Regions from separate parts of the Homo sapiens genome. Here region 2 is linked to region 1. The links come from fine-mapping of genetic effects on gene expression. A gene starts in region 1. The other region holds a variant in brackets. All regions are shown on one strand. Distances are from middle to middle.

The links.
Region 2: its variant is fine-mapped to the expression of DISC1 in whole blood (TOPMed, PIP 0.98).

The regions. Positions count from the first base shown.
Region 1 is chr1:231,624,138-231,629,137 of GRCh38, reverse strand. It overlaps DISC1 (DISC1 scaffold protein), which reads right to left and starts at 2,348. Exons shown (of 13, transcript NM_018662.3): 1 at 2,204-2,348. The coding sequence starts at 2,270. The region is part of intron 5 of TSNAX-DISC1 (TSNAX-DISC1 readthrough (NMD candidate)); the gene reads right to left. RefSeq lists silencers at 629-829, 1,803-1,862, 2,193-2,452.
Region 2 is chr1:231,602,864-231,608,392 of GRCh38, reverse strand. All of the region lies in intron 4 of TSNAX-DISC1 (TSNAX-DISC1 readthrough (NMD candidate)), which reads right to left. The region is part of intron 1 of LINC00582 (long intergenic non-protein coding RNA 582); the gene reads left to right. Among named protein-coding and RNA genes, the nearest start is that of LINC00582, 6.5 kb to the left of the region's middle. The variant G/T (reference allele first, on the strand shown) is at 3,224.

The DNA of each region.
Region 1 (5,000 bases):
TATAAAATAAGTCTGAGGGAAATTAAAATTATGCCAAAGCCTCTTTTGCCAGGATTAACAGTTCACTCTTACATTTTGGGTCTATAGATATGCAGGATGGAGGTTGGGCCTGGTGGCTCATGCCTGTAATCCTAGCGCTTTGGGAGGCCAAAGTGGGAGGAATGATTGAAGCCAGGAGGTCGAGACCAGCCTGAGCAACATAGCAAGACTCCAACTCTAAAAAAAAAAATTAGCTGGGCATGGTGGCATGCGCCTGTAATCCCAACTACTCAAAAAGCTGGAACAGGAGGATCTCTTGAGCCCAGGAGTTCAAGGCTACAGTGAGCCATGATTGTGCCACTGCACTCCATCCTGGGTGACAGAGCAAGACTCTGTCTCCTAAAGAAAAAAAAATTACCTAAATTCTAATATAGGTCTGTTCTGAATCACAGCTCCACTCTATAAGTTCAGTTTGGCAAGCGGCCAAGAACACAGTTGTGAGTGGCACCCACACCAGGGTTCTAATCCTGGCTTTACACTTAAGAGCTCTGTGAGCTTGGGAACCAAGCAGGGTGACCCTGAACCTCAGCTTTGTCATAGGGAAATGAGGACTGTAATCCCAGTCCCATAAAGATGCAGGGAGGATTTCATCAAAGGAATTCATAATAAAATGTCTGGCACATTGTAAGTTCTAAAAACCTGCAGATGTTACCATTCCCTCCTAGTACTATCATGTCTTATATGTGCATAGTGACTCATACTCCACAAGGTGCTTTCAGATCTTTTGCCTCATTTAATCCTCAGGCAATGCGATCAGTACAAAAGGCAGTAATTACTACCCCCATTTTTCTTTTATCTTTTTTGTAAACAGATGAGAAAACAGGCTCAAAGTCAAAGAGCCCGAAAAGCGGGTATCTTGTCCACGGTTCTTTTTGCTCTGTGGCACAGAACTGAACCTCAGAGGACTTCATGTACCATGCCGAGCACAGGAGAACTACATGTGTTTTTAAATGCCCTACTATTCCTGCATTAATCAAATCAAACTGGTATTCTCACATTACTCCCAATTATTTAGATTTTGCCTAGGAAAAATAGCAACTAAGGTTTTTTGAGAGTGCACTGGGTATTTCAGGCATTGGGCGAGGTGCTTCACTTCCACCATCACAGTTAAACCGCATAACAACCCTATGAAGCAGGTACTGTCATAGTCTCCTGCATGTCCAGGATTGACATGCAGGCAGACTGTCTCCAAACCCCAGTTCCTATGGTCCTAGTGCTGTCCAATTCAAATTTGTCCAGTTGATGATAACACTTTGCAAATTGATTTCCCATACAACAAACCTAACGACACATGGAGGCCAGGCTATGAGTGTTCTCCTTTACATTTCAGGAGACTGAGGCTCTGAGAGGTTAAGCGACTGACCCAGCCCTGTCCTCACCCAGCAAGAACACAAGGCAGCACTCCCTAACTCCAAATCTCACTGTCTTTGGAAAACCTCACATTTTAAGAGTGAGAAGGTAGAAGTCCTGTCATTGTTGAAAAACAACCATCCACAATCATCACTAAGAGTTGACAGCGAGACCCGCGCTCCAGGCGGTGGAAACCGAGCAGTCTCCGGCTTGGGCCATCCCCGTTACTGTAGCCAAGTAGGAAGTGGGCGGTGACACTGATTTCAGAGCAGCCCCTAGGGAAGGCACAGGCACCAGTTCCTGGTCCCGCTCCCAGCCTCCTCCCTCCAGGTCCCCGAAGGGGTGGAACCCGAGATCCAGCTGGGTCTTGGGGTTAAGGCGGGCGGGACGTCCCCTGTCCCGAGGGGGCGCAGGCTGGGGCGCACCGCAACGAGAGTGCAGGCGGCGCAGGTGTCCCAGGACGGGGACGGATCCAAACCCCAAGCACGCCTCTGCAACCTTTCCCGGTCACCTGGACACGCAGCGGGGGCGCGGGTCAGACTCCTACAGTTTCGCAAACTGCGGGTCCCGGGGATCGCTGCACAGTCCTGGGTCAGGGACCTGGCCCGGCTCGGCGCTGGTGCCGGGCTGGCAGCCCAAGACTCGCTCTTCTCTCAACCTCGCACGCCTCGCGTCCTGCCTCAGTTTCCCTCACCTCGAAAGGGGTTGTTAACAGAGGCACGCCCTGACCTACGCGACTTCCTGGGGGCCAGAGCGCGCCCTCCTTGCCAGGACCCCCCCAGGACGTGCTAGGACTCTGTGGCAGCTCCCCTACCTGCGCGGTGGCTCACGCCGCCGCCGCCGGCGGCGGCTGGGGCGCCCTGAGGACCCCCGCCTGGCATGCGCCCCGCTGCCAGCTCCTCCCGCTCCGCCTGGGCTGCCTCCTGCTCCTTCCCCGAGGCCAGAGGCGGGGGGAAGGGAGCAGCGCGCTGGACGGGAAGTGGGGAGGGGGCTGGCGACGAAGGGGGCGGCTCCTTTCTTCTCCTCAGCGAGTCCGCTGTTTCCTTTCCAGCATTGGCCCCTGACGCGCGCGCGCGCGCGCACACACACACACACAGACATACACACACACGCTGCTGGAGCGGGCGGGGCCAGCGGCCCTCACAGCCTGTCTCCGGGATCTCAGGACCTCAGAAAGTTTGCTTTCACTCTGACTCATTTCTGGAAGAAACAAGAGGGGAAGTGCAGGAAGCCTCCAGGATGGGGTACAGGAGGGCGCCTTCCAGACGCATGATTTAAGAAGTGACCACACAGTGATGGAGAAGATGGAGGGATGTGAGGGGCTCATTTATACAAAGTGGGGGCGGGGGGGAGGAGTGGGGATAACTGATGACCCTGGAAAGAGATGAGTGGGAGCAGATGTTTAGAAATGAGATAGGATTCCAACTTCTAGCATCTTCCAGCAGCTCCGGGCTGGTTCCAGGACACAGAAGTCCATGCAAGCTCCTAGGCAACTGACTCCCCCCTTCACCCCTTCTCTTTGGTTCATTCAAGGAAGCTACTGGAGCACCCCCTAGGTAGCACCTGCTATAGGACAATGGGTACAAGGAAGGGCTACACATGAGCTCTTTGCCCTTAAGCAGCTCACCTCCAGGCTAGAAGGAGAGCACGTGCATAGAAAACGAAATCACAACATGAGATAGAATGTGCCATGTGCCAGAGGCTTGGCACAAAACCTCTTGCAATGGTTCAGGGATAGGAGGGAGAACTGTGAAGAAGAAGGGTTGGGGAGACGTTCTGCAGGAATGGGAAGGATCTCCTTAGAACGAGAGGAGTTAGAACTAGAGGAAGGCTGAGGTCCTTCAAAAGCTGAAGATCTTAAGACTGAAAGCACACAGTTGTACTTAAAATCAGTGTGTTTGCCCGGCATGGTAGTGCACTCCTGTAGTCCCAGCTACTCGGCAGGCTTAGGTGGGAGGATTGCTTGAGTCCAGGAGTTCAAGGCTTCAGTGAGCTATGATGGGGCCACTGCACTCCAGCCCAGGTGACAGAGAGAGACCCCCCACACCCCCACCACATCTCTAAAAATAAATAAATGTATGAATATCTAAGGCCAGGCACTTTGGGAGGCCAAGGTGGAAGTTCACTTGAGTCCAGAAGTTTGAGATCAGCCTGGGCAACATAATAAGAACCTCTTTTTTTTTTTTAACTTTTAAGTTCAGTTTGTTACATAGGTAAACTTGTGTCATGGGTGTTTGTTGTACAGAGTATTTTGTCACCCAGGTATTAAGCCTAGTGCTCATTAGTTGTTTTTCTTGATCCTCGCCCTTCTCCTACCCTCCGCCCTCCAAAAGGCACCAGTGTGTGCTGTTCCCCTCTATGCGTCCATGTGTTCTCATCATTTATCTCCCACTTATAAGTGAGAACATGCAGTGTTTGGTTTTCTGTTCTTGTGTTAGTTTGCTAAGAATAATGGCCTCCAGCTCCATCCATGTCCCTGCAAAAGACATGATCTCATTCTTTTTTATGGCTGCATAGTATTCTATGGTATATATGTACCATATTTTTTTATCCAGCCTATCATTGATGGGCATTTAGATTGATTCCATATATTTGCCGTTGTGAATAGTGCTGCAGTGAACATGTGTGTGCATGTGTCTTTATAATAGAATTATTTATATTCCTTTGGGTGTATACCCAGTCATACGATTGTTGGGTCAAACAATATTTCTGTCTTTGGGTCTTTGAGGAATCACCACACTGTCTTCCACAATAGCTGAACTAATTTACACTCCCACCAACAGTGTAAAAGTGTTCCTTTTTCTCCACAACTTCTCCAGCATCTGTTATTTTTTGACTTTTTAGTAATACCCATTCTGACCGGTGTTAGGTGGTATTTCATTGTGGTTTTGATTTGCATTTATCTGATAATCAGTGATGTTGAGCTTTTTTTATATGAATGTTGTCCACATATATGTCTTCTTTTGAAAAGTGTCTGTTCATGTCCCTTGCTCACTTTTTAATGGGGTTGTTTGGTTTTTTCTTGTAAATATAAGTTCCTTATAAGATGCTGGATATTAGATCTTTGTTAGATCACAGTTTGCAAAATTGTTTTCCCATTCTGTAGGTTGTCTGTTTACTCTGTTGATAGTTTCTTTTGCTGTTCAGAAGCTCTTTAGTTTAATTAGATCCCAGTTGTCAATTTTTGCTTTTGGCATCTTTGTCGTGAAATCTTTGCCCATGCCTATGTCCTGAATGGTATTGCCTAGGTTGTCTTGCAGGGATTTTATAGTTTTGGGTTTTACAATTAAGTCTTTAATACATCTTTAGTTAACTTTGTATAAACTGTAAGGTAGAGGTCCAGTTTCAATCTTCTGCATATGACTAGCCAGTTATCCCATCACCATTTAGGAAATTCTTTACCCATTGCTTGTCAAAACCCTTTCTATAAAGAAAAAAAAAATTAATTAGCCAGCACAGTGGCCTGTACCTGTAGTCCCAGCTACTTGGGAGGCTGAAGCAGGAGGATCACTCTAGCTCAGGAGGTCGAGGCTGCACTGAGCAGTGATTGCACCACTTCCCTCCAGCCTAATAGAGTGAGACCAGGCTAATAGAGTGAGACCCTGCCTAAA
Region 2 (5,529 bases), 21 kb after region 1:
CTGGGCAACATGGTGAAACCCCGTCTCTACTAAAATACAAAAAATTAGCTGGGTGTGGCAGTGTGCGCCTGTAGTCTGAGCTTCTCTGGAGGCTGAGGCAGGAGAATTGCTTGAACCCAGGAGGCGGAGGTTGCAGTGAGCCAAGATTGTGCCACTGCACTCCAGCCTGGGCGATAGAGCGAGACTTTGTCTGAAAAAAAAAAAAAAAAAAAAAAAAAAAAAAGAATGAGCAAAGATTTCATGACAAAGACACCAAAAGCAATCGCAACAAAGGCAAAAATTGACAAGTGGTATCTAATTAAACTTAAGAGCTTCTGCACAGCAAGAGAATCTACCAACAGAGTAAACAGACAACATACACAATGGGAAAAAATACTGGCAAACTATGCATCTGACAACGGTCTAATATCCAGCATCTATAAGGAACTTAAATTTGCAAGAGAAAAACAAACAACCCCGTTAAAAAGTGGGCAAAGGACATGAACAGACACTTTTCAAAAGAAAACATACATGCGGCCAACAAGCATATGAAAGAAAGCTCAATACCACTAATCATTAGAGAAATGCAAATTCAAACCACAGTGAGATACCACCTCACACCAGTTAGAATGGTTATTATTAAAAAGTCAGAAAATAACAGATGCTGCTAGGCTGCAGAGAAAAGGGAACATTTATACACTGTTGGTGGGAGTGTCAATTAGTTCAACCATTATGGAAAGAAGTATGGCGATTCCTCAAAGAGCTAAAAGCAGAACTACCATTTGACCCAGCAATCCCATTACTGGGTGTATACCCAGAGGAATATAAATCATTCTACCATAAAGACACATGCACGCGAATGTTCACTGCAACACTATTCACAATAGCAAATACATGGAATCAACCTGAATGACCATCAATGACAGATTGAATAAAGCAAATGTGGTACATACACACCGTGGAATACTAAGCAGCCGTAAAAACGAACAAGATCATGTCTTTTGCAGGAACATGGATGGAGCTAGAGGTCATTGTCCTTAGTAAAGTCACACAGGAACAGAAAACCAAATACCACATGTTGTCACTTATAAGCAGGAGCTAAATGACAAGAACTTATGAACACAAAGAAGGAAACAACAGACACTGGTGTCTACTTGAGGGTGGAGGGTGGGTGGGGGGAGAGGAGCAGAAAAGATAACTATTGGGTACTGGGCTTAATACCTGGGTGATCAAATAATCTGTACAACAAAACCCTGTGACATGAGTTTACCTATGTAACGAACTTTTACATGTAACCCTGAACCTAAAATAAAAGTTTAAAAAAAATGGAAAAGAGGGTAGTCATTACCGGGGTAGGCAGAGGGAGGAAAAAGCCCTTAAGAGAAAGATCAGCAAGCTAAGGAAGAGGAGGAGGTGTGCAGGCTGGGAGTTGAGCCCCACTGCCCTCCTCCTTTATAGGGCAGCAGCAGGATGCAGGAGAGATATCAGCCTCCCAAGCATCACTTCTCAGGAATGCAGTGGAGCTAGCCCTGCTAACTGCAATACTATGACAGGGATTCTGAAAGGGCATTCCTCTTATAATTAAATACCTAGGTACTGGGAGGCAAATAAAAATCATAATAAAAGCCAACAGTAATGAGTTTACCGGCCAGACACGGTGGTTTATATTTTAATCCCCGCATTTCAGGAAACCAAGATGAGGCGGGAGGATCGCTTGAGCCCAGGAGTTTGAGACAAGCCTGGGCAACATAACGAGACTCTGCCAAAAAATTAAAATCAACGAAACTAGCCAGGTATGGTGCCAGCACCTGTAGTCCCAGCTACTCGGGAGGCTGAGATGGGAGGATCACTTGAGCCCAGGAGTTCGAGGCTGCAGTGAGCTGTGATAGCACCACTGCACTCCTGCCTAGGAGACAGAGTGAGACCCTGTCTCGAAAAAATTTTTAAACATTTTTTAAAATTAAGAGCTTATCTATTGTCTGTTACCATTATGCCAAGGGCTTTACTTTGACCATTTTTTTCAGTTCTCAAAAGAATGCTACAGATTTAGTAGTGATGCAATTACCCCCATTTCACAAATGGGGAAACTGAAGCTTTAAAGAGGTTAAATACCATGCCTATGTCTAGGATGTAAGCAATGGAGCTGGACATCTTGGGGACTCCAGGACCTATGGTCCTAACCATGGTTCTTGGGATGGCTTACTGCCTCCCAGGGTGAGCTGGAGTAACTGGAGTGAGTGGACCCAGACAGGACAATTAAGCATTCCTAAAAGTGGAGCATTTAGTACGTGCAGTGTCTTGGTGCAGCATGAAGGCCAGAGAAGATGCAATGAGATAGATTAGTGTCAGGTCCTAGTTGACTGAATGGCATTTTGATCCAATATTTTAAAAATCCCTGGATTCTGTTATAGGGGCTCCTCACTTTAAGGAAATCTGATATTCAAAATCCAAACTGAAGTAGGAATAACAGCTTGTTCATTGAGCAGCTACTGTGCACCTTGGCATCACACCAGGAGTTTTCTAAACATGACCTCACAACTGCACAATTCTGCCAGGCGAAATTATTAGCCATATTCCCAAGCCAGGCACTATGAGCTGAGTTGTGACTTCCAAAATTCAAGTGCTGAAGCCCTAAGCCCCAGTGCTTCTGAATGTGACCGTATTTAGAAATAGGATCTTTAAGGAGGCAATTGGGTTAAAATGAGGTCATTAAGGGTGGACCCTAATCTAATATGATTGATATTCGTATACGAAGAGGAGATGAGGCCACAGACACAGGACACAGACACACCCTGAGGGGTGACCACGTGAGGGCACATCAAGACAGCAGCTGCCTGCAAACCAAGAGAAGCAGTCTCATAGGAAACCAACCCAGCCAACACGTTGATCTCAGACTTCCAGCCTCCAGAACTGTGAGACAATACATTTCTGCTGTTTAAGCCACAGTCTGTGGTACTTTGCTATGGCAGTCCTAGCAAACTAATGCACCAAGGAATCGAGTCTGAAAGTCTAGTTTTTGTCCAAAATCACGAAGACTGTGTCAGAGCTAAAAATGCAGTCTGTGCTACTGCAAAACTTACACAACAGAAGGGCCCTCTCCTGTACCAGAAGGTTTGCTCCAGGCTTCTGAGTATCAGCTACACTGTTTCATCAAAACACAATTCATTTGACAAAAGCCACTTGCCCTTCTGGCAAAAGAGATCTCAAGCAAAGAAAATTCTACTGATTTCACTCATGCCCCCTT[G/T]TAGATGGTGATGTTTCTATAATGAAGCATTTAAAGATTCTGATCCCATGTCAGAAAATCTGGATGGACTGTTATATATGAGAGAAAAACTACGTTTGCATATCGATCAATGAATGAAAACAACCTGAGAAATGGAAACCATTTGATTTGGTGAAGTAGGAGCAAATGAAGTAAATTTTTAAGTAATGTTTATTTCCCATGTTATATAAGGTTATCTGAAAAACAAACATTTAAAATTTTTCCTTTTAAACTTTTTTCACATTCATATTTAATACACCTTTTGCACTAATTGCCAGAAATTAACACCCCTCAAAACGTGTGTGTGTGTGTGTGTGTGTGTGTGTGTATGTATATTTTAGATTGAGTCTCACTTTGTCGCCCAGGCTGGAGTGCAGTGGCGAGATCTCTGCTCACTGCAACCTCTGCCTCCCCAGTTCAAGCAATTCTCCTGCTTCAGCCCCCCGAATAGCTGGGATTACAGGCGTGCACCACCATCCCTGGCTAATTTTTTGTATTTTTAGTAGAGATGGGGTTTCACCATGTTGGCCAGGCTGGTCTCGAACTCCTGACCTCAGGTGATCTGCCAGCCTTGGCCTCCCAAAGTGCTAGGATTACAGGCATGAGCCACCTTGCCCGGCTCTATTTATATATTAAAAAGACCTTTATAAATTTAAAAACTTAAAATATATATTATAAAAGTATCATACACATGTGACAATAAAAATTCAAATAGAATTTTAAAAATTCAAATAGGACTGAAGGGAACAAACTAAAATATAAGTGGTTGCCCAAGAACCATCTTTAAGCATCTCTGGGTTTTAGTTCTTGCAATGATTACTTCTCTTTGTGACACTGTGTTATTTTGATCTTGACATTTTTAAAGAAAACATGGATTGACAGATACAAATGTCTTTGCATATGTCAAAATACTTTTAAAAATAAATAAAGGGGAAAAGAGCCTCTCAGAAATGGCCACTAGGTGGTAGAAGTTGACTAAAAACTGCTTTATTCGGTAGAGCCATCTCGATTGCTGCCCGCGACTTTTTTCCTCTAGGGAGAAGGGATTTCTTCAGGGTCTTCTCCTGAGATATCCAACATCTCCTCCTCGAGCCCCTTTGCTTAGAATGCCCTGTAGCCATTTTAGACTGCACACAAATGGAGATAACACAAGCAACTTCTCACCTTCCAGAGGGCAGGACAAGATGAAGAAGGAAGATCTTCAAAAGTGAAAGGTTAAGAAAGACAAGTACACACCCATACACACACCAGTCCTACCAAGGCAATGGTGACAGCAGGAAGAGATGGCTGCTCTTCCTCCAGAGCAGCTGTGATGCAGACCCACCTGTCACCCAAGAAGGAGAAAAGTGAACAACAGCTTCTGCCCTAGTGGAGCCTGAATTAACTCATAAGTCGAAATCCCCAGAATCTCTTTGCGCTTTGGTCTGTGCTATTGTACTTAACACACGCTCAATAAAGACTTATTGATTTGACTTAATCTCAAAACCACATTTCTAAAGCACCAAAGGACTATCTTTTGATTCATTAGATGTTTCTTGAGCTCACACAAGTGCCTAAACAACAGGGGAAAAGGTCGTAAAGATAAATAAAATAAAAGCCTTCTGTATTTTTTTTTTTTTTTTTTTTTTTTTTTGAGACGGAGTCTCACTCTGTCACCCAAGCTGGAGTGCGGTGGCGCAATCTCGGCTCGCTGCAAGCTCCGCCTCCCGGGTTCACGCCATTCTCCTGCTTCAGCCTCCCGAGTAGCTGGGACTACAGGAGCCCGCCACCACGCCCGGCTAATTTTTTGTATTTTTAATAGAGACAGGGTTTCACCGTGTTAGCCAGGATGGTCTCGATCTCCTGACCTCCTGATCCGCCCGCCTCGGCCTCCCAAAGTGCTGGGATTACAGGCGTGAGTCACCACGCCCGGCCAGGCTTCTGTATATTTTTCTATATGGCCAAAATGTTTAATGATTCTAAAAACTGAGAACAAACACAAGCAAACAAGTCAAAGGAAGAAAATGTTTAAATAAGAAAAATAAATGGGCCGGGCGTGGTGGCTCACGCCTTTATCCCAGCACTTTGAGAGGCCGAGATGGTCGGACTGCTTGAGGTCAGGAGTGCTTGAGGAGGTCAGCCTGGCCAACATGGTGGAACCCCTGTCTCTACTAAAAATACAAAAATTAGCTGGGCATGATTAGCACCTGTAATCCCAGTTACTCAGGAGGCTGAGGCAGGAGAATCGCTTGCACCCGGGAGGCGGAGCCTGGGTGACAGAGCTAGACTTCGTCTCAAAAAAAAAAAAA